3 linked regions of the Homo sapiens genome follow. The protein of the gene in region 3 interacts with the protein of the main gene of each other region in a biochemical or structural test. Each region holds a gene or a part of one and is shown on either strand. Other genes may lie near its edges.

Region 1 (7,110 bases), on a different chromosome or scaffold from region 3:
TATTTGTTCCTTGTATGAGATGAACTTTTTTTTTTTTGTTTTTTTTTTTGAGACACAGTCTCACTCTGTCATGAGGCTGGAGTACAGTGGCACGATCTCGGCTCACTGCGATCTCTGTCTTCCGGGTTGAAGCCATTTACCTGCCTCAGCCTCCCGAGTAGCTGGGACTACAGGCGTGTGCCACCACACCCTGCTAATATTTGTATTTTTAGTAGGGACGGGGTTTCGCATGTTGGCCGGGATGGTCTTGATCTCCTGACCTGGTGATCTGCCCGCCTCGGCCTCCCAAAGTGCTGGGATCACAGGCATGAGCCACCGCGCCCCGCCAAGATCAACTTTTTTAGATTCTACATATGAGTGAGATCATGCAGTATTTGTCTGCAAACACATTTATAATGTATAATGGGGTATATAAAAATAAGTAAAACTTGGCCCCTACACTGAAGGAATATAAAGCAGGAGAACAGAGAGGCACAATAAGAGAATGGCCTTGGCTTTTCCTAAAGTCTTTTTGATACGACTAGCTAGATAGAAGATGGGGAGAGAGATGCACCTTATTTCTCTAGTGTTTATACTGATAAGCATTTGTATTTTTCAGTAATGGCAATGCAGATGCAGCTTGAAGCAAATGCAGATACTTCAGTGGAAGAAGAAAGCTTTGGCCCACAACCCATTTCACGGTTAGAGGTATGTGGTTAGTTGCTAATTTTGGAATTATATACTAGATTCTTCTACCTAGTGGAAGGTATTACAACCTTTACATAAAATATAGGTTTACTACCAAGGTCAAGACCCAAATTAGACTTTTCAGAAGTGTTGTCAATAATCCTGTGGAAAGGCTGCAGATCATTGCTAAATATGTCTGGCAGGGCCTCTTCCTTTGTCAACAATTCTCTTCCTACTTTATCATTTTTATTTCTGAGAGTTGGACTGTCAGAAACTAAGGCCTAGGATCCCATGGTGGAATCTCTGTGCTGTTTTTGTTTGTTTGTTTGTTTGTTTTTGATGGAGTTTCGCTCTTGTTGCCCAGGCTGGAGTGCAATGGCGTGATCTCGGCTCACCGCAACCTCTGCGTCCCAGGTTCAAGCGATTCTCCTGCCTCAGCCTCCCAAGTAGCTGGAATTACAGGCATGAGCCACCACACCCAGCTAATTTTATATTTTTAGTAGAGACAGGGTTTCTCCATGTTGGTCAGGCTAGTCTCGAACTCCTGACCTCAGGTGATCCACCCTCTTTGGCCTCCCAAAGTGCTGGGATTACAGGCATGGGCCACTGCGCCCAGCCTGTGCTGTTTTTTTGTTTGTTTTTTAAGAAATGGGTCTTAACTGTGTTGACCATGTTGATCTTGAACTCCTGGCCTCAAGCAGTCCACCTGCCTTGGCGTCCCAAACTGCTAGGATTACAGGCATGAGCCACCATGCCTGGCCAAAGCATCCTGTGCTATTTGCACTAAGTATGAAAGTGCTGTTCTGGGAATTATAGCGGCCTGGACCAGTTATGCAAGGAAGACAGGGAAGCACCTTCTCTCCATTAACCTAGATTTGTGCTGTCAGCTGTCATTGGCAGAGAGAAGGGTGTGGTGGTGTTATGGTATAAGAGACAAGCTCCAATTCAGGATTCTGCACAAGAACATTAAGCACCAGAGCTGAGGCCTTACACTATTTCTGCCCATTGTATAGAGACTGCCCTGTGAGTGCAGCTGATTTGGGCTAAGTAGGAGGAAAGCAGAGAAAGACTTGATTCTTCTGTCTCTTTTTTTCATATTTCCCATCTCTGACTAATCTTCAAGACTCTAGAAGTTAGGAGTGCAAAAGGCTAATAAAAAAAAAAGACTCTAGAAGTTACTTAAATGGATTTGTGATAAACATTTGAAAGTTCAGAGTCATAACTTCTGGTGCCATGAGCATCCTTATACTCAAACATGCATATTGCTTAAATATTAATAGCAGACATGGCTTATGTTGGCAAACTAATCTCTCCCCTCTTCTAAATTCTCCCAACCCCTGAATGCACCCACATTCACCTACTAACTCATGTTTTCCCAGAAGTCATGGTTTTGGTGGCTAATGAAACCAAAGCTGACTTGAATATAGGAAGAAAGAGGTGTCTTTGGGTGGTTTGTTTTGAGAAGAGGTATAAAAGTCCCTGACAAAAAGTAGTTTTCCTCACTGTTAATGTCAGTTGTTAGAGCAGAGCTTTCTGGTCATTGTTCAACAAAAAGTATTGACAGGCCAAGATAGTGCTCTTTATATTCTGAGCAGCCTTATCTATTTACCCTACCATAGTGTAAAAATACAGTTTTTTATGTGTGCTTGATGTGGAAAGTGTTGAGCAACACTGTCTTAAAGTGGTCTTGTAGGGCCCAAGGTCTCAGAGATCATTTAGGGTCACAAAAAAAGGTTGGGAGTTACTTTTTAATTCCAATTGCTAATAGGAGTTCTTTTTAATGTACATGGCTTAGTGCTAGTTTAAAATTATTGATTTTGATAATGAAAAGGTTGTTAATTTGTTATTAAGTACCTCATATATAGGGCTCATTTTTCAGCTTTTGCATATAATAACAGTAGGCTCTCTGTATCTCCGGATTCTGTATCAGCAAATTCAACAAACTACGTATCAAAAATTCAATCAACTACATATCAAAAAAAAGTATACAGGAGGATGTACATAGGTTATATGCAGGTAATACGCCATTTTATATAAGGGACTTGAGCATTGTTGGATTTTGTTATCTGCTGGGGGTCCTGGAACCAACTTCCCATCTCCCCCCGCCCCCCCAAGGATTTCAAGGGACAGTTGTATTACAAGTCTTCAAGCACCTCTGTGAAGTATGTAGGACACATAACATCTGTGTTAGATTAGAGAACTAAAGCTTAAATTTATCCATGGTTTTCTTCATTTGCAGCAGTGTGGCATAAATGCCAACGATGTGAAGAAATTGGAAGAAGCTGGATTCCATACTGTGGAGGCTGTTGCCTATGCGCCAAAGAAGGAGCTAATAAATATTAAGGGAATTAGTGAAGCCAAAGCTGATAAAATTCTGGTAAGTACTGCTTACTTAACCTAGGGAGGCATTAGTGGGAATAGTACAAAAGGGAATGTAGTGAAAGACTTCTTCCTTCTATCTCTTATTCTTCGGTCATCTCATTATCCTTTCCAGGGGTGACTGTTACCTGTTTCTTTTCTTCTTTTCTTTTCTTTTCTTTTTTTTTTCTTTCTTTTTTTTTTTTTTTGGAGACGGGTTCTCGCTCTGTCACACAGGGTGGAGTGCAGTGGTGCCATCTCAGCTCACTGCAACCTTCACCTCCCAAGCTCAAGCGATCCTCTCACCTCAGCCTCCCAAGTAGCTGGGACTACACTACAGGCACATGCCACCATGCCGGGGTAGTCTCGAACTCCTGAGCTCAGGCGATTCACCTACCTCAGCCTCCCAAAGTGCTGGATTATAGGTGTGAGCTACTGTGCCTGGCCTATTTATTTTTCTAGCTTCATATAGTTCTTTAACATACATACTTCCCCATGGTTACATTTTGTTTTATGAACCTATTTCTTCAGTGTTTATATAGTTACACAGTTTTATTGCCTTTACCCTTGAAGTTTTATGTAGTATAAAGCAGATTTTTTTTTTTTTTTTTTTTTTTTTTGAGACGGAGTCTCGCTCTGTTGCCAGGCTGGAGTGCAATAGCGTGATCTTGGTCTACTGCACCCTCCGCCTCTCAGGTTCAAGTGATTCTCCTGCCTCAGCCTCCCGAGTAGTTGGGACTACAGGTATGTGCCACCACACCCAGCTAATTTTTGTATTTTTATTAGAGACAGGGTTTCACCACGTTGGCCAGGATGGTCTCGATCTCCTGACCTTGTGATCTGCCCACCTCAGCCTCCTAAAGTGCTGGGATTACAGGTGTGAGCCACCGCGCCCCACCGCAAATATTTATTTATAAAATTGTATTTTCACGTATCGATTACTGTTAGCGTTAGATAAATTTATTGGATTACTCAAATGAATATTTGCTGAAGTGGTTGCTTAATTGGAAATAAGGGTTCTGAGTCCCTAACAGTATTTTTGTTAAAAGATTGTCATATTGACTAAGCCAGTAGGGGTCCCTAAAGTCTTTCTGTTTTCGCTTTTTGGGTATCAGTTTTTGTGAATGAACAAATGCTGACAGGATCTTTTCTTTTTGCCTTGCGAGATCTTGGTTTCAGAAATCAAGTCACTTCTCTGTTTCTATGAACACAACAATGCAAACCTAGAATACATGATTTGAGATGCAATATGGTATAGACTTACGTGTCTTTACTTTTCAATATTTTATGTTCTTTGTTTCTGGCCAGTAAAGATTATGATTGTATTGTTTGTTTTCTGTTTTTTTTTGAGGCAGAGTGTCGCTGTGTCACCCAGGCTGGAGCACAATGGTGCAATTTTGGCTCTGCTCACTGCAACCTCTGCCTTCCGGGTTCAAGTGATTGTCGTGCCTCAGCCTCCCAAGTAGCTGGGATTACAGGCTCCCACCACCACACGTGGCTAATTTTTGTATTTTCAGTTGAGACGGGGTTTCACCATGTTGCCCAGGCTGGTCTCAAACTCCTGGCCTCAAGCAATCTGCCCACCTCAGCCTCCCAAAGTGCTGAAATTACAGGCACTAGCCACTGTGCCCACCTTTTTTTTTTTTTTTTAAAGAAAAAAAAGAAAAGTCTCACTCTGTTGCCCAGGCTGGAGTGCAGTGGCATGATCAAAGCTCACTGCAGCTTCAGCTTCAAACTCCTGGGCTCAAGGAATTCTCAGCCTGCTGAGTAGCTGGGACTATAGGCACATGCCACTAGCCTGACCATTTCTACCAGTTTTGTCTTTGCTAATACATTCTCCTGTTTTTCACCAAAGGAAGTAGTCTATATTCCTTGAGCTCCCATGGCTTGTTAGTACTTCTCATATTACCCATCACATCTACTTGTACTATAGTTATTTTGTATAGTTTATCTTTCTGATTAAGTTATAAGCTCTGTGGAGGCAGGAATCAGCTCTTCTTTTTCTCCATATCCTTCAGAGTCCCTGGGACTATGTTTCATACGAAGTAAGTGTCTAGTACATGTTTGTTGCACTGAAATGACAGTGAGTATATGAATTGGCCAGGCTGGTCTCAAAATCCTGGCCTCAGGTAATCCGCCCATCTCAGTATCCCAAAGTGCTGGGATTACAGGCGTGAGCCACTGCACCTGGCCGTGCAATGAATTTTTAAATGAAATATTAAGTATATAGAAAAGTTTAGAGAATAAACTTTCATTGATTTTTCAGCTATTTGTTGATTTTTTTTCTTCATGGGAAATTTAAACATTATGAAAGTTTAATCTTTTTACTTTCTATGGGTCTATTTAGATTTTCTTCTTGAGTGAGTTTTGGTAGTTTATCTTTCTAAGAATTTGCTTATTTCATCTAAGTTACCTAACTTGTTGACATAGAGATGCTCACAGGGTTTCCTTATACTACTTTTTATTTACATAAAGTCAGTAGTAATGTCCCCTCTTTCATTCTTGATTTTAGTAATTTGAGTCTTTTCTCTTTTTTTCTCGGGCAATGCAGCTAAAAGTTTGTCAATTTTGTTGATATTTTCAAAGAACCAGCTTTTGGTTTCATTGATTTTTCTCTATTATTCTGCCCTCTACTTAATAGTTTCTACCCTAACCTGTATTATTTCCATCTTTCTGCTTGCTTTGTTTTGTTTGCTTTTCTTTGGAAGGTTAGGTTATGATTTATCTTTTTTATTTTTAGAGGCAGAGTCTTGTTCTGTCACTTACGTTGGAGTGCAGTGGTGTGATCATAGCTCACTGCAGCCTCCAACTCCTGGCTCAAACAAACCTTCTGCCTCAGCCTCCCAGGTAACTAGGACCACAGGCACGCCCCACCATGCCCTGCTATTTATTTTATTTTATTTTATTTTTGAGACGGAGTCTCCCTCTGTGCCCAGGCTGGAGTGCAGTGGCGTGATCTCTGCTCACTGCAACCTCTGCCTCTTGGGTTCAAGCGATTCTCCTGCCTCAGCCTCCTGAGTGGCTGGGATTACAGGCACGTGCCGCCATGCCCAGCTAATTTTTAGTAGAGACAGGGTTTCACCGTGTTAGCCAGGATGGTCTTGATCTCCTGACCTCATGATCTGCCTGCCTCAGCCTCCCAAAGTGCTGGGATTACAGTCGTGAGCCACCGCGCCAGGCCTTTTTTTTTTTTTTTTCTGATGCAGTCTCACTCTCTTGCCCAGGCTGGAGTGCGGTGGTGTGATCTCGGCTCACTGCAACCTCCGCCGCCCGGGTTCAAGCAGTTCTCCTGTTTCAGCCTCCTGAGTAGTTGGGACTACAGGCGCACGCCACCACGCCCAGCTATTTTTTGTATTTTTAGTAGAAATGGGGTTTCACCATATTGGGCAGGCTGGTCTTGAACTCCTGACTTCGTGATCTGCCCACCTCACCCTACCAAAGTGCTGGGATTCAGGCATGAGCCACCATGCCCAGCCATGCCCTACTAATTTTTTTTTTTTTTTTTGAGATGGAATCTCGCTGTGTCTCTCAGGCTGGAGTGCAGTGGTGCAAATTCAGCTCACTGCAACCTCCGCCTCCCAGATTCAAGTGATTCTTCCACCTCAGCCTCCCGAGTAGCTGGGACTACAGGCGCGTGCCACCACGCCCGGCTAATTTTTGTATTTTTAGTAGAGAGGAAGTTTCACCATGTTGGTCAGGCTGGTCTTGAACTCCTGACCTTGTGATCTGCCCACCTCAGCCTCCCAAAGTTCTGAGATTACAGAGGTGAGCCACCACACCCAGCCACCCTGCTAATTTTAAAACATTTTTAGAGCCAGGGTGCTGCTTTGTTACTCAGGCTGGTCTCAAACTCCTGGCTTCCAGCAGTCCTCCCACCTCAGCCTCCCAAAGTGCTGGGATTACAGGTGTGATTCACCACACCCAGCCTTCTTTTCTAATATAGCTGTTTATAGCTATGAATTTCTCTCTAAGCACTGCTTTTCTTGGAGCCCATACGTTTTGGTATATCTTCGTTTTCATTCATTGCAAAAACATTTTCTGATTTCCCTTGTCATTTCTTCTTTGACTTGTTGCTTATTTAGGAGT
Region 2 (7,110 bases), on a different chromosome or scaffold from region 3:
TTTGATACTTTTTTTCTATTTTATTTTTCTCTAAATTAATTTACTCAGTCTATAAATTTTATCATCTGGTAAGTCCTTAGATAATAAAGTGCCCTCAAATTATTTATTATTCTTTGTCTTTGAAATTAAGAGTAACATTCTTTTTGGATAATGTAGCATTTGGTATACATGCTAAGGCAGAATATGCAATAATTTTTTTTTTTTTTTGAGATGGAGTCTCGCTCTGTCACTCAGGCTGGAGTGCAGTGGTATGATCTCGGCTCACTGCAACCTCCAACTCCTGGCTTCAAGTGATTCTCCTACCTCAGCCTCCCAAGTCGCTGGGATTACAGGCACACGCCACCACACCCAGCTAATTTTTGTATTTTTTAGTAGAGTCAGGGTTTCACCATGTTGGCAAGGCTGGTCTTGAACTCCTGACCCCAAGTGATCCACCTGCCTCGGCCTCCCAAAGTGTTGGGATTATAGGCATGAGCCACCATGCCCTGCTGCAATAATATTTAATAAAGTCATCAATAATTAAGAAAATCCTTCAAGGAATTTATTTTGCCTGGCTCCCAAGAATATGAATGATCTTAGCCTCTGCTTCTTTCAACTTTTATAACATTTTCTCACTGCATTTCCCATCAGGTGAACATCAGATGGAGCTACTTGATTATGTAGCAGCAAAGTTCCATGAAGAAGCTGGCATCTTCAAGCTATTGGTACAAGCTTTTAAATATTGCTTTCACAGAGCTATTTAGCATAATATTTTTCTTCTATTGATCTCTATTCAAATAACGTCTTCCTTCAATTTCCAAATGCATGTTTATTTTTACATTAATCCTGTGTAGATTATCGATTCAATAATGGCACTTTTTCGAGTGGATTTCAGTGGCCGTGGGGAGTTGGCCGAACGGCAGCAAAAATTGGCCCAGATGTTGTCACGACTCCAAAAAATCTCAGAAGGTATATCTTTAAAATAAAATGGCATCTGTGACTATGTTTGTCAAGTATACTTTGCAGAGAAGCTTGGAATATAATGTCAGGAGGCAGCGATTTTTTTTTAAATAAAATTACCTTTATGAGAATACAACTCTTTGTTTTTTTTTTGTTTTTTGAGATGGTATCTCGCTCTGTTGCCCAGGCTGGAGTGCAGTGGTGCGATCTCGGCTCACTGCAACCTCCGCCTCCCAGGTTCAAGCAATTCTTCCTCCTTAGCCTCCTGAGTAGCTGGAATTACAGGCACCTGCCATCACACCAGGCCAATTTTTTGTATATTTAGTAGAGACGGGGTTTCACCATGTTGGCCAGGCTGGTCTCGAGCTCCTGACCTCGTGATCTGTCCGCCTCAGCCTCCCAAAGTGCTGGGATTACAGGCATGAGCCGCTGAGCCCGGCTTTACAACTCTTTTTAAACCAAAAATATTTATTCTAACCTTAATAATAATAATAACAAATAATTTCTGTTGTCAATGAAAAATAGGAATATGATGTTATTTATAAAATAAATTCATGATGCAATATGTCTAAACTCTGAAATCTAAACAATGAACTTTTAAATATCTATATTGCCTTTCTCATAGTTTTAAAATTTTATCTCTTGATGCAGAATATAACGTGGCTGTTTTTGTGACCAATCAAATGACTGCCGATCCAGGAGCAACTATGACGTAAGCCCCAATATTCTACTTTTTATTTCACAGAGGTTAATATAAAGAGGGTTAGAGCGTAGAATAGAAAATAATTTCAAGGCCGGGCACGGTGGCTCACGCCTGTAATTCCAGCACTTTAGCAGGCTGAGGCAGGCGGATCACGAGGTCAGGAGATGGAGACCAGCCTGACTAACATAGTGAAACCCCGTCTCTACTAAAAATACAGAGATTAGCCGGGTGTGGTGGCGCACACCTGTAATCTCAGCTACTCCGGAGGCTGAGGCAGAAGAATCACTTGAACCTGGGAGGTGGAGGTTGTAGTAAGCCGAGATCGCGCCATTGTACTCCTGTCTGGGAAACAGAGCAAGATTCTATCTCAAAAAGAAAAAAGAAAAAAGAAAAGAATTTAAAAATCATTAGTCTTTATGTGGGCACAAATATATCACAAATCACTTTATTACTGGGCGCAGTGGCTCATGCCTGTAATCCCAACACTTTGGGAGGCCTAGATGGTTGGATCACCTGAGGTCAGGAGTTCAAGACCAGCCTGGCCAACATGATGAAGCCTCGTCTCTACTAAAAATACAAAAAATTAGCTGGGCGTGGTGGCGTGCACCTGTAATCCCAGCTATTCGGGAGGCTGAGGTGGGAGAATCACTTGAACCTGGGAGGCGGAGGTTGCAGTGAGCCAAGATCATGCCATTGCACTCCAGCTTGTGCAACAAGAGCAAAACTGCATCTCAAAAAAAAAATCACTTTATTGCACAGTGTATATGACTTCATAATTGTAAATATCACTTGGTAACCAGAATCTATTTTTCTCTAGTTCTTTATAGAATAAAGCAATACTTTAACCATTTTCAGCAGTACTTTGGGCTTCTCTTTGGTCTAGGGCTAAAGGGGTATGGGAGGACAATAAGAAATAGATCCTAGGGAAATAAAAACTTATATTGCAGCTTATCAGTATAATAAACACCATTCATAAAAACAAAAAAGTCATCTTTCTACAGGATATACATGAGATATATTTATCAGAGGCACTATGGGAGAAGTCTCCTGTTTGAAGAAAAAGAATTTCAGTTCACACTAGGCATATTCAGAATTTGTTGAAGTGTTTGTGCACATAACTATTGATGACTCTGAAAGACGGCAGTGAATAGAAACACACAGAGAGCTAAAGTAGGATAATAAAAATAGATAAATCAAACAAAGGTTTGTTGCCACCGTAACAAATTTTGAGCATTATGTGTCTGAATAAGCAATCAAAATAATCCTAAATACACACCACTGCACTCCAGCCTGGGAGACAGAGCAAGACTGTCTCAAACAAAGCAAAACAAATCTAAATTCATGATAATGCTTTTTTAAAGTGTGTGTGTGTTTTTTTTTTTTAAGAGACAAGGTTTCACTCTGTCACCCAAGCTGCAATGCAGTGGCACCATCTCTGCTCACTGCAACCTCTGCCTCTCAGGCTCAGGTGATGCTCCAGCCTCAGCCTCCCGAGCAGCTGGGAGGCACACATCGCCACGCCTGGCTAATTTTTTTATTTTTAGAAGAGACAGGGTTTTGCCATGTTGGCCAGGCTGGTCTCGAACTCCTGGCCTCAAGCGATCCTCCCACCTCAGCATCCCAAAGTGCTAGGATTACATGTGTGAGCCCCCTTGCCTAGCCAAAAAGCTTTTAAAAAAATCTTTTAAAGGCTGGGTGCAGTGGGCAGTGGCTCACTGTAATCTCAGCACTTTGGGAGGCCGAGGTGGGAGGATCACCTGAGGTCAGGAGTTCAAGACCAGCCTGGACAACATGGCAAAACCCTGTCTTTACTAAAAATAAAAAAACTAGCCAGGCATGGTGGTGTGCACCTGTAGTCCTAGCTTCTTGGGAGGCTAAGACAGGAGGATCACTTGAACCTGGGAGGCAGAGGTTGAAGTGAGCCAAGATCGTGCCACTGCACTCCAGCCTGGGTGACAGAACAAGACTCCGTCTCAAAAACAAAAAAAAAAAAGATTTTTTTAAAGGTTTTTATTTAGAAAATATTTTTACCAGAGAGAAGTTAAAAAACTAGTGCAATGAATTCATGCCACTGCATTTCAGCCTGGGAGACAGAGCAAGACATACTCATTTATCTAGGTTCATCAGTTGTTAAATTTGCCACATTTTTTCTCTCTCCTGTATGTGTGTGTGTGTGTGTGTGTGTGTGTGGAGGTGTACATACACCTTTGTTTCTCCACACATACACACATTCTCATATGTATATGTATGTGGTATGTGTATACGGTTTTTTGTTTGTTTTTCTTTTTCTTTTTTTTTTTTTGAGACGGAGTCTCGCTCTGTCACCCAGGCTAGAGTGCAGTGGCACGATCCCAGCTCACTGCAGTCTCCGCCTCCCAGGTTCAGGCGATTCTCCTGCCTCAGCCTCCTGAGTAGCTGGAATTACAGGCACCTACCACCACACCCGGCTAATTTTTTGTATTTTTAGTAGAGACGGGGTTTCACCGTGTTAGCCAGGATGGTTTCTATCTCTTGACCTCACGATCCACCTGCCCCGGCCTCCCAAAGTGCTGGGATTACAGGCATAAGCCACTGTGCCCAGCCTCTTTTTTTTTTAGATGGAGTTTCACTCTTGTTTCCCAGGCTGGAGTGCAATGGTGCGATCTCAGCTCACTGCAACCTCCACCTCCTGGGTTCAAGCAATTCTCCTGCCTCAGCCTCCCGAGTAGCTAGGATTACAGGCACCTGCCAACCACCCCTGGCTAATTTTTTTTGTATTTTTAGTAGAGACAGGGTTTCACCACGTTGGCCAGGCTGGTCTCGAACTCCCGACCTCAGGTGTTCCACCCACCTTGGCCTCCCAAAGTCCTGGGATTACAGGCATGACCCACCGCACTCAGTCGTGTTTGTTTGTTTTTTGAGACAGAGTCTTGCTCTGTCACTCAGGCTGGAGTGCAGCAGCACCATCTCAGCTCACTGCAACCTCTGCCTCCTGGGTTCAAGCAATTCTCCTGCCTCAGCCTCCCGAGTAGCTGGGATTACAGGCGCCTGCCACCATGGCCGGCTAATTTTTGTATTTTTAGTAGAGACGGGGTTTCTTCATGTTGGCCAGGCTGGTCTCGAACTCCTGACCTCAGGTGATTCGCCCACCTCAGCCTCCCAAAGTGCTGGGATTACAGGTGTGAGCCACTACGCCCAGCCTGTATATGTATTTTTTGGTGAACCATTTGAGAAGTTTCTTCTGAACCACTGAAAATTATTCACAGACATCATGACACTTCACCTCTTAATACTTCAGCATATCTCTTCTAAGAATAATGATGTTCTTCTACATAGCCACAATATAATTATCACATTCAGAAATTCTAACATTGGCATAATAATGTTATCTAATATACAGTTGTATTCAAGTGTCTCCAGTTGCCCCAATAATGTCCTTTATAGTTGTTGGGGGTTTTTTTGTTTTGCATTCAATTCAGGATCAATTGAAGAACATGCACTGCGTGTAATTGTCATGTCTCTTTAGTCTCCTTTAATCAGAACAGCTCTTCAACCTTTGTTAGACTTTTATGACACCGACATTTTTGTAGAACACAGACCAACTGTTTTGCAATGTCCCTCAATTTGAAGTTGAATTTTTTCTTCATTACTTAAAATGTTAAGCATTTTGACAGGAAAACTACATAAGCAATATTATGGCCTTCTCAGTATATCATATCAGGAGGCACATGATGGCAGTTTGTCCCATTATTAGTGATGTTAATTCTGATCATATGATTAAGATGATATTCACATGATGTCTCCATTGTAAAAGAAAATTACAAAAATTCTCTTTTATATTTAATTAGTAATTTGTGGTGTGATAATTTGAGACTGTGTAAATATCTTGCTCTGCAATAAGCTTTCATGCATTTATATTAGCATCCATTGAAGATTCTTGCCTAAATTAATTAGAGTAAATTAATTATTACTCTGATGGTTGCAATACAAAGTGCTATTACTTTAAAACAGAAGCAATGCATCATATGGTAGCAGATTAAATGTATCATTGACAGATATATTAAAAGATATTTGATATGCTGGAGTAAATTCTGTAAATTACATTGAAATGAATGTGTCTCTCTTTAAGCATTTTCCAAATTTACCCTTAACAATTTTGCTTCATCTTTCGCAGTTTGATATCTATCTCTCACTTTTCAAGACTCTTTTTTTTTTTTTTTTTTTTTGTGATGGAGTCTCGCTCTGTCACTCAGGCTGAAGTGCAATGGCGCGATCTCGGCTCACTGCAAGCTCCGCCTCCCAGGTTGATGCCATTCTGTCACCTCGGCCTCCCTAGTAGCTTGGGACTATAGGCGCCCGCCACCACACCCGGCTAATTTTGTTTTTGTGTTTTAGTAGAGACGGGGTTTCACCGTGTTAGCCAGGATGGTCTCGATCTCCTGACCTCGTGATCCATCTGCCTCAGCCTCCCAAAGTGCTGGGATTACAGGCATGAGCCACCGCGTCTGGCCTCAAGACCCTTTTATAAGTATTTTCTACTTAGTTACAAGAGATTCCTGTGAAAAATATTAACTACTCAAATGTTATTAAGCAAGTTAAAAAGATTGAGCAGGGGAAATCATTTATTCACTCAATGAATATTTATTGAAAATCTACTATGTAACAATATTCTGAGAATTCACTAGTGAACAAAAAAGACAAAAATCCTGGCCTCGGCCAAGCACGGTGGCTCACGCCTGTAATCCCAGCACTTTGGGAGGCCGAGGCAGGAGGATCGCTTGAGCCCAGGAGCCTAAGTCACATAGACAGACCTCGTCTCTAAAAAAAATTAAAAATTAGCCAAGCATGGTGGCACATGCCTGTAGTCCTAACTACTTGGGAGGCTGAGGCAGGAGGATTGCTTGAGCCTGGGAGGTCAAGGCTGCAGTGAGCCATGTTTGCACCACTGCACTCCAGCCTGGGCAAGAGAGTGAGAACCTGTCTCAAAAAAAAAAAAGTCTTGTGAACGGGTGTGGTGGCTCACTCCTGTAATCCAGCACTTTGGGAGACCAAGGTCAGTGGATCACGAGGTCAGGAGATCGAGACCAGGCTGGCCAACATGGTGAAACCCTGTCTCTACTAAAAATATAAAAATTAGCCGGGCGTAAATGCGCGTGCCTGTAATCCCAGCTACTTGGGAGGCTGAGGCAGAAGAATCGTTTGAACCCGGGAGGGGAGGTTGCAGTGAGCCGAGATCACACCCCTGCACTCCAGCCTGGGTGACAGAGTGAGACTCTGTCTCAAAAAAGAAAAAAAAAAAAAAAGAAAGACAATAAATGATGTCCATTCAACTCAAAATTTTAGTCTTGGTAAGTCACACATTGTCTATAGTATAGTCGCTGAGTGGTTAAGGCAATCATCTCTGTTTTATGGGATGACTTTCATACACAGGACATGAAGTGCTTCACAAAGAGAATAATTTTAAACTGAAGAGAAATGGAAGATTTTTA
Region 3 (7,522 bases):
TTTCATCAATGTTAAAATAATGAAACATGTAAATATTTTATATATAACCAGCCTTTATATAGTTTGAGGAATGAGTAGGAGAGATCACTCTCTTCTGTTTCTTATTCAAGGACAAAATAGATCTCTATTAGTATAATCTTTAATCTTAAAGCAAATTATGAAACAGATGGTTTTTGACTGCTTTAGAAGCAGTATTTACCAATACCAGAAGTCAGTACAAATTCTGACCAAACAAGTCATGCCAAAATAACTTCATTAAACTAATTTCCTTTTTATAATGGGTAAGCAGAATACTACAGGCCTCTAAATATATAACTGACACAAGTTTGAAATTGATTAACGGTAACTGTCACAGGACGACATGGATGTTAGGCCTTGCACTTAGACTCAGTTACTTAATGGTCAAATGAAATAGAACAATAGAAGCTGAAATTTAAAACTAAAGATTTTAGTGACTATAGCTCAACTGAAATAAGATAATGAGCCTTCTTAAACTAATAAATTCTAGATAGCATTAATAAAAATATGATGTCCACATCATGAAATGTAATCAGTTCTGTTCTCTACATTAGTCAGACTCCCCTCTAATACTGTGAAAATTCTGACACTTTTTAAAAAGGAACACTTAAAAAATACAGTAGTTAGAAACATCAACAGTAGAAATGAAGGAAACCAGAGTGTAGTTCAGATTCTGCTATTTCAGGGATGCTTAACTTTGGGGAAGCTATTTAACTCTCTAGACACCAATTTTCTCATTTATAAAATAAAGAATGAACTAGATGCTAAAATTTCTTTCAACACTAAATGCGAAGAATTACTACCCTAAATCCTTCTACATCTAATACATGATTTCTGATTTTTCAATCCTCCTATTTTGTAAACTAATAAAAATGATAATGCAAGCATACAACCATCAGCACAGAGCAGTGGTTAAGAAAACAGACTGACTCTGGAGCCAGCCAGGCTGCCTGGCTAGAATCCCAACTCTGCTACTTACATATGACCTTGGGCATCCATCAAGCCATTTAATTTGTTGATACAAAGTAAAATGCAGAAATCAGTACATTTCCCCCCAAAAGACCATTGCACCCTTATAGCTTTTTAAACTGGTTCTGTATGTTCATATTGTCCTGTCCATAATAAATTAATTAATTAATTAGTGCTGTCTGAGCCCTTTCCCCAGGTCCTAGAAATAAAGCCATTTGGTAGCCCTGATGTGATGCTACAACTTCTATAACACCTATTAGTTTCAGTCCTTCCAAGTAAAATGGTAAGGCCAAGCTGACAACTGTAATACACCAGATAGCCACAAGTACTTGGCACTACACTGTGGTAAATAAGAACACAACTTTGAAAGCAAATGCCTGAATATAAATGTGGACTGACACTTTCTAATGGTCTTGCACAGTTTACTTTGGCTCCATGTGTCTCAGTTTCCTCATCTTTAAGAGGGGGTACCATAATCATGCTTACACACCGGACTGTTGGGAGGATTAAATGAAATATGTAAAGCACTTAGAACAAAACTTGACACATAGTAAGCACTCAATGTTATCTGTTATAATTAGTATTATCGGAGAGTAGAAATGATGAAGGTCCTGTGAAGGAGATAGAGAAGGGGTAGTTCAACATACAGGACAATGACCAGAATCTTTGGGTTCGTCTGGGCTTTAAAGAGAGGTATGTGCAACCATCAAACGTCGAGGATGCAAGAATGTAAGTACACCAACTCTACCAAGAACCAGCAACGGTCTCTCCCTGCTGTTGCTGCTTGTCGACTTCCAACTACATTAGGTAGTAATTATTTCACTTCATGCCTTAAATTGCTCCTTTGAGACTCCGGCTATATAGATGGTTCCTAATTTAGGACGGTGTCACTTAGAATTCTTCGACTTTTAAGAAAGCCATGAGCATTCAGTAGAAACTGTACAAGTAACCACACAACCGTCTGTGTTCATGATTTTGCCCAACTGTAGATTAAGGTAAGTGTTCTGAGCATGTTTAAGGTAGGCTAGCGCAGCCATAAAAAGGAATGAAATCATGTCCTTTGCAGCAACATGGGTGCAGCTGGAGGCTATTATCCAAAGCGAATTAAAGCAGAAACAGAAAATCAAATATTGCATGTTCTCACTTATAAATGGGAGCTAAACATTGGGCATTCATGAACATAAAGATGGCAACAATAGACAGTGGAGACAACTAGAAGGGAGAGGAAAGGAGGAGCAAGGGTTCAAAAACTATTGGGTAACATGCTCACTACCTGGGTGACAGGATCAATCGTATCCAAACCTCAGCACCACGTAATATACCGATGCAACAAACCTGCACATGTACCCCCAAATCTAAAATAAACAGCTGAAAATAATTTTTTTGATAACAAAAGTAGGCTAGGCCAAGCTTTAATACTCAGTAGGTTAGCTGTGTTTTAAATCCATTTTCCATTTGGGATATTTTCAACCCCGTAGTAAGTCGAGAAGCATCTGTTCCTACCTAGAAAATCTTCCATAAGGTAATCGATTAAAAGGTTTTAAGGAAATACAAGAAAAACCTGACCAGTGAAGAGGTAAAAGCCCCTAAAGAAGGCGTACCGACACTCTCCAGGACGCTCGCAGAGCCTTCACCCCCTGGCCCTGGGGAAGGAAATTCCCAGTGCAGGAGTGAGGGAGAGACCCAAAAGCCAAGAGGAGCCTGCGCAAAGCGACCGCAGTGGCGGCCCCAGGGGCCACTGCCCAGAACCATCCCTCCCACACAAACGCACAACCCTAAACCCCCACCGCCCGCCCTTCGCTCCAAGGCCCCCGGGGCCAGCAACCAGGGCGTCCCTGGCACTTCAGACCAAAGCTGCAGGCCCGCAGAAGGCCACTTCGGTCGCTCCTGCCGCCTTCCCTCCCTCCTCCCTCGTTGGCCTGCTCCGGCGCCACTCCCTGCTTTGTCCCGCACGAGCCTACAGGCTGTCGCAGCCTCCCGAGCTTCCCCCTGCAGGACGCACCGGCGAAAATCTGACAGAAACCACTGGCCCTGCAAAGAAGTCCTTCTGGTAACCAGCTATCCCCTCGCCGCCGGAGAAGCTCAAGGATCCCGCCTCGGCGAAGCCAATCGCGGACGAGCCCGCCGCGCGTGCGCACTACCTAGCCGCTGCACTGCCCTGTCCTGCCCTACTCTGATTGGACGACCCTACTGCATCACTGCGCATGTATCTTTGCGTTTGGCTTTAAATGCTTCCAAGTTTGATTCAAGTTTACGGTTCAATTAAAAAAATACTGGTTTAGTGCCTACTTTCAGACACAGTGTAGATGCCGAGGCTACAGACCTCACCATCTGCGTGGATAAGTAATAAATACGGTATGATTCGGTGTGTGCGATAATAGAAATGCGTGCATCGCAGAAGTATACGATATCCTATTGGTTATTCATTCATCCGAAAAAACATTGACTTAGCGGTGCCTGCAGGATAATTTTCAAACTCTTTGTTAGGTTCTGGGAATATAGAAACGAATACGTGATTATTAGGCTCTCAGAAAAGGGGAGCCGCCTCCGGACTTGGAAAAGCATTAAAGCATGTTAAGTAGGAAAGTTACATCATTCAATGAGTATTTACTGAGCACCTTCTAAGTGCTAGGCGGTAACACAGTCAACTATCCCTGAAAAATGGTATTAGAAAGGCTAATCTGAAAGGAGAGAGAATGGCTAAAGGTTGTTTATTGAGTTTTATCCAGCAGTTTGACAAAAAGTAAAAGCTAAAAAATATCAAGGGTGAAATGAAGATGTGAAACAATGGGAACTCTTGGGCTGCTGGTAGGAGTGTAAATAGGTACAGCCATTTAAAAGAGTAATTTGAGGCTGAGAGCGGTGGCTTGTGCCTGTAATCCCAGTACTTTGGGAGGCCGAGGCGGGCGGATCACTTGAGGTCAGGAGTTCGAGACCAGCCTGGCCAACATGGTGAAACCCGGTCTGTACTAAAAATACAAAAATTAGCTGGTTTTGGTGGAGCGCGCCTGTAATCCCAGCTACTCAGCAGACTAAGGCGGGAGAATCGCTTGAACCTGGGAGGTGAAGGCTGCAATGAACCGAGATGGTGCCGCAGCACTCCAGCCTGGGCAGCAGAGAGACCCTGTTTCAAAAAAAAAGAGTAATGTGCTTAAGGAGCTTTTATCCTGGGGACTTTTTCCAGTCATAAAGAGCACCTCATAGGTTGAGTTGTGCTTTTGGCAGCTCCTGGAGCCAGCGTTACAAGAATTTGAAATGGGGACCTGCCAAGGTTGGGCACCTTAGTAAACCGCACCCCCCTCTTCTTTGGACTGGGACACATAAAGAGTAAGGGTAACCAGAAAACAAGCTAGCTTCATAGTGTCTGCAGCCTACCTTAATATCATCTGGGGAGTTCAGAAAATCTAAAACAGATTGGCTAAAGGTGACCTGGGACATTCCTCTTGCAGATTTGCATCTGGTTTGATCCTTCACTTCAGATCATTACTCACATATCAACTTGTCAAAGGGCTTTATCTGACAGTGCATTGCTCTCTTGTCTCATCTTGTATCTCCCTTACCCTGCTTTATAGAGTTCATCACACTTTCCATTCCCTAACATATACTTATTTGTTAATTGTTTTTCTATTACTCTCAGAATATAAGCTACATGAGGGCAGGATCTTTGCTTTATTCTCTGCTGTACCCATGTGTTTAGAATAGTACTAGTCTTTTTTGTTTTGTTTTGTTTTTTGAGACGGAGTCTTTCTCTGTCACCCAACTGGAGTGCAGTGGCATGATCTTGGCTCACTGCAACCTCTGCCTCCTGGGTTAAAGCAATTCTTCTGCCTCAGCCTCCCAAGCAGCTGGGACTACAGGCATGCGCCGCCACCAAGCCTGGCTAATTTTTTGTATTTTTGGTAGAGACAGGGTTTCACCATATTGGCCAGGCTGGCCTCGAACTCCTGACCTCGTGATCTGCCCACCTCGGCCTCCCAAAGTGCTGGGATTAAAGGCATGAGCTACAGCACCCAGCCAGAACTGTACTAGTCTTACAGACCGCACTCAATAAATATTTGTTGATATTTATTTGGAGGCCAAGGCAGGAGGATCACTTGAGGCCAGGAGCTTGAGACAAGACCAGCCTGGGCAACATAGTGAGACACTGTCTCTTAAGAAAAGAAAAGAAAAGAAAGAAAGCTGGAAGAAGTGTACACATGAACACTCTGTTCTGTTTTTGCAAGTGTTCTGTAAGTCAAACATTAGTTCAAGTAAAAAGTTTAAAAAGGCCAGGCGTGGTGGCTCACGCCTGTAATCCCAGCACTTTGGGAGGCCAAGGCGGACGGATCACTTGAGGTCAGGAGTTCAAGACTAGCCTGGTGAACGTGGTGAAACACTGTCTCTACTAAAAATACAAAAATTAGTTGAGCATGGTGGTGAGTGCCTGTAATCCCAGCTACTGGGGAGGCTGAGGCAGAAGAATTGCTTGAACCCAGGAGGTGGAGGTTGCAGTGAGCCAAGATCGTGCCATTGCACTCCAGCCTGGGCAAAAGAGCAAGACTCTATCTCAAAAAAAAAAGAAGTTTAAAAAACAAGATTTCTGTTACTCAACAAATACTAAACATGAAGTACCTGGTAATGCAAAGGACACTGTAATGTGTAGTTCAAAAGTACTTTTCTGCAGAAGTGTATAGTCTGATTTTGGATTATCTCTAAAGGAAACTAATAAAATGCAATTTAGGCCTGGGTGTGGTGGCTCATGCCTGTAATGCCAACACTTTGGGAGGCTGAGTGGGGAGAATCGCTTGAGTCTAGGAGTCCAAAACCAGCCTGGGCAACATGAATGAAACCCTGTCTCAAAAGAAAAAAATCAAAGTCTTTGTCCAATTATGTGGATACATATATCTTTGGAAATGAATATATTGGTATTCGTTTCATTTCCTTCTTTAATCATTCAATGCCAAGTATGTCACCCCTAAATATTTTTATAAGGATATTATACTATGCCTTGGGGTTAACAGTAACAAATATTGGAGGTAAAAGTCTCTGTAACTATAATGTTGAATTAACACATTAATTGGTTATTACTTATTGGTAATGTTAGTTAATTGATTAAGCAGCATCAACATTACAGCTGGGGTGGGAGGAGTGGAGAGGAGAAAAATAATTTGGACACCTCCTTTTAGTCTGATTACCCTTCTTTTTCAGTTGTGATCCCACTTGTCTCCTAGCCACTACACTTGATCAATTCTGGACTGTTATTTTTTACTTTAACTCTATAATAAATATCTGTAATACATTTCTCTTTTGATTCATATTCACCTCCCACCACACATATTCCTACTTCTATTTTATGTTTCAGAATATGAGAAAATAACACCCCACTAGTGATTTGTTCATATCACACAGAAGTTAATGAATGGCAAAGGCAGGATTAGTACCTAGCTCTATTCATTACTAATTTCTTACTTTTTCATCGAAGTAAGTTTCGGAGGGAAAATTATTGAACAGTTTTTTAAAGTTTCACATGCTAGCTGGGTGTGCTTATGCGTGCCTGTAATCCCAGCTACTTGGTAGGCTGAGGCAGTAGGACAGCTTGAGCTCAAGACCAGCCTGAGCAACATAGTGAGACTTCACTTCAATTAAAAAAAAATTAATAAGTTTCACATGGTTATAGAACAGTTTTGGATAATATTTATTTTATATGACTTGGGCTTTCAGGTGAATTATTTTTGATTCCTTATTTAGCTTAAAGAGAACAGTGATTCCAGAGGACCCTAACTTGTTCTGGAAGGACCAAGTGAAATGTTTCATCAGAGTAAATAGCAATTCTACCATTCCAGGATTACCAGAACATCTAAAAGCATCCTTCCTAGAGGCAACAACTGAAAGCAGCTGCAGACTTAAAGAGGACCAAAGCTTTACCAAAATATGCCTAAAGTATCTCTTAGCAAACCAAGAGACCTTCAGTGGGGAATACAACACAGTTTGTCAACTCAAATAATTTGTCAAGATTTATTAACTTGAAAAAAAGTTTAAGAATGTTTATTTAACTAATATTTTAGTTTTGTCTATTGCTTTAAAATAAGTCATGTAATTCAGCATTTTTTTTCTAAATGAATACCTCAAAACCTTATTCCATTTTAAACTCAAGAATATGTGGCTGGGCGCAGTGGCTCCCAGCACTTTGGGAGGCCGAGGAGAGTGGATCACCTGAGGTCAGGAGTTCGAGACCAGCCTGGCCAACATGGTGAAACTTCGTCCCTACTAAAAATACAAAAATTAGCCAGGCACGGTGGCGGGCACCTGTAATCCCAGCTACTCAGGAGGCTGAGACAGGATAATTGCTTGAACCCGGGAGGCAGAGGTTGCAGTGAGCCGTGTTGCGCCACTGCACTCCAGCCTGGCGACAGAACATCTCAGATATGAAAGTAGATATAACAACTTAAAACACAATAATCAGAAATGGAATTTCAAAGAAGTCTGTAGTCAAAAGTGTGGAAGCACAAAAAACATAACTAGACTCTGCAGATAACAGTCTAAGGCCACATATCCA

The links.
Region 1: the proteins of RAD54B (region 3) and RAD51 form a complex in vitro, tested with the Homo sapiens proteins (2 studies listed by BioGRID).
Region 2: the proteins of RAD54B (region 3) and DMC1 form a complex in vitro, tested with the Homo sapiens proteins (one study listed by BioGRID).

What each region holds. Positions count from the first base shown.
Region 1 is NC_000015.10:40,698,159-40,705,268, forward strand, and holds part of RAD51 (DNA repair protein RAD51 homolog 1), read left to right. Parts: intron 1-598; coding exon of another isoform or gene 599-600; coding exon 601-687; intron 688-2,905; coding exon 2,906-3,043; intron 3,044-3,647; coding exon of another isoform or gene 3,648-3,768; intron 3,769-7,110.
Region 2 is NC_000022.11:38,532,133-38,539,242, reverse strand, and holds part of DMC1 (meiotic recombination protein DMC1/LIM15 homolog), read left to right. Parts: intron 1-630; coding exon 631-704; intron 705-833; coding exon 834-948; intron 949-1,590; coding exon 1,591-1,651; intron 1,652-7,110. UniProt on the Homo sapiens protein: Participates in meiotic recombination, specifically in homologous strand assimilation, which is required for the resolution of meiotic double-strand breaks.
Region 3 is NC_000008.11:94,472,012-94,479,533, forward strand, and holds the start of RAD54B (DNA repair and recombination protein RAD54B), read right to left. Parts: upstream 3,105-7,522; 5' UTR 2,990-3,104; intron 1-2,989. UniProt on the Homo sapiens protein: Involved in DNA repair and mitotic recombination. May play an active role in recombination processes in concert with other members of the RAD52 epistasis group.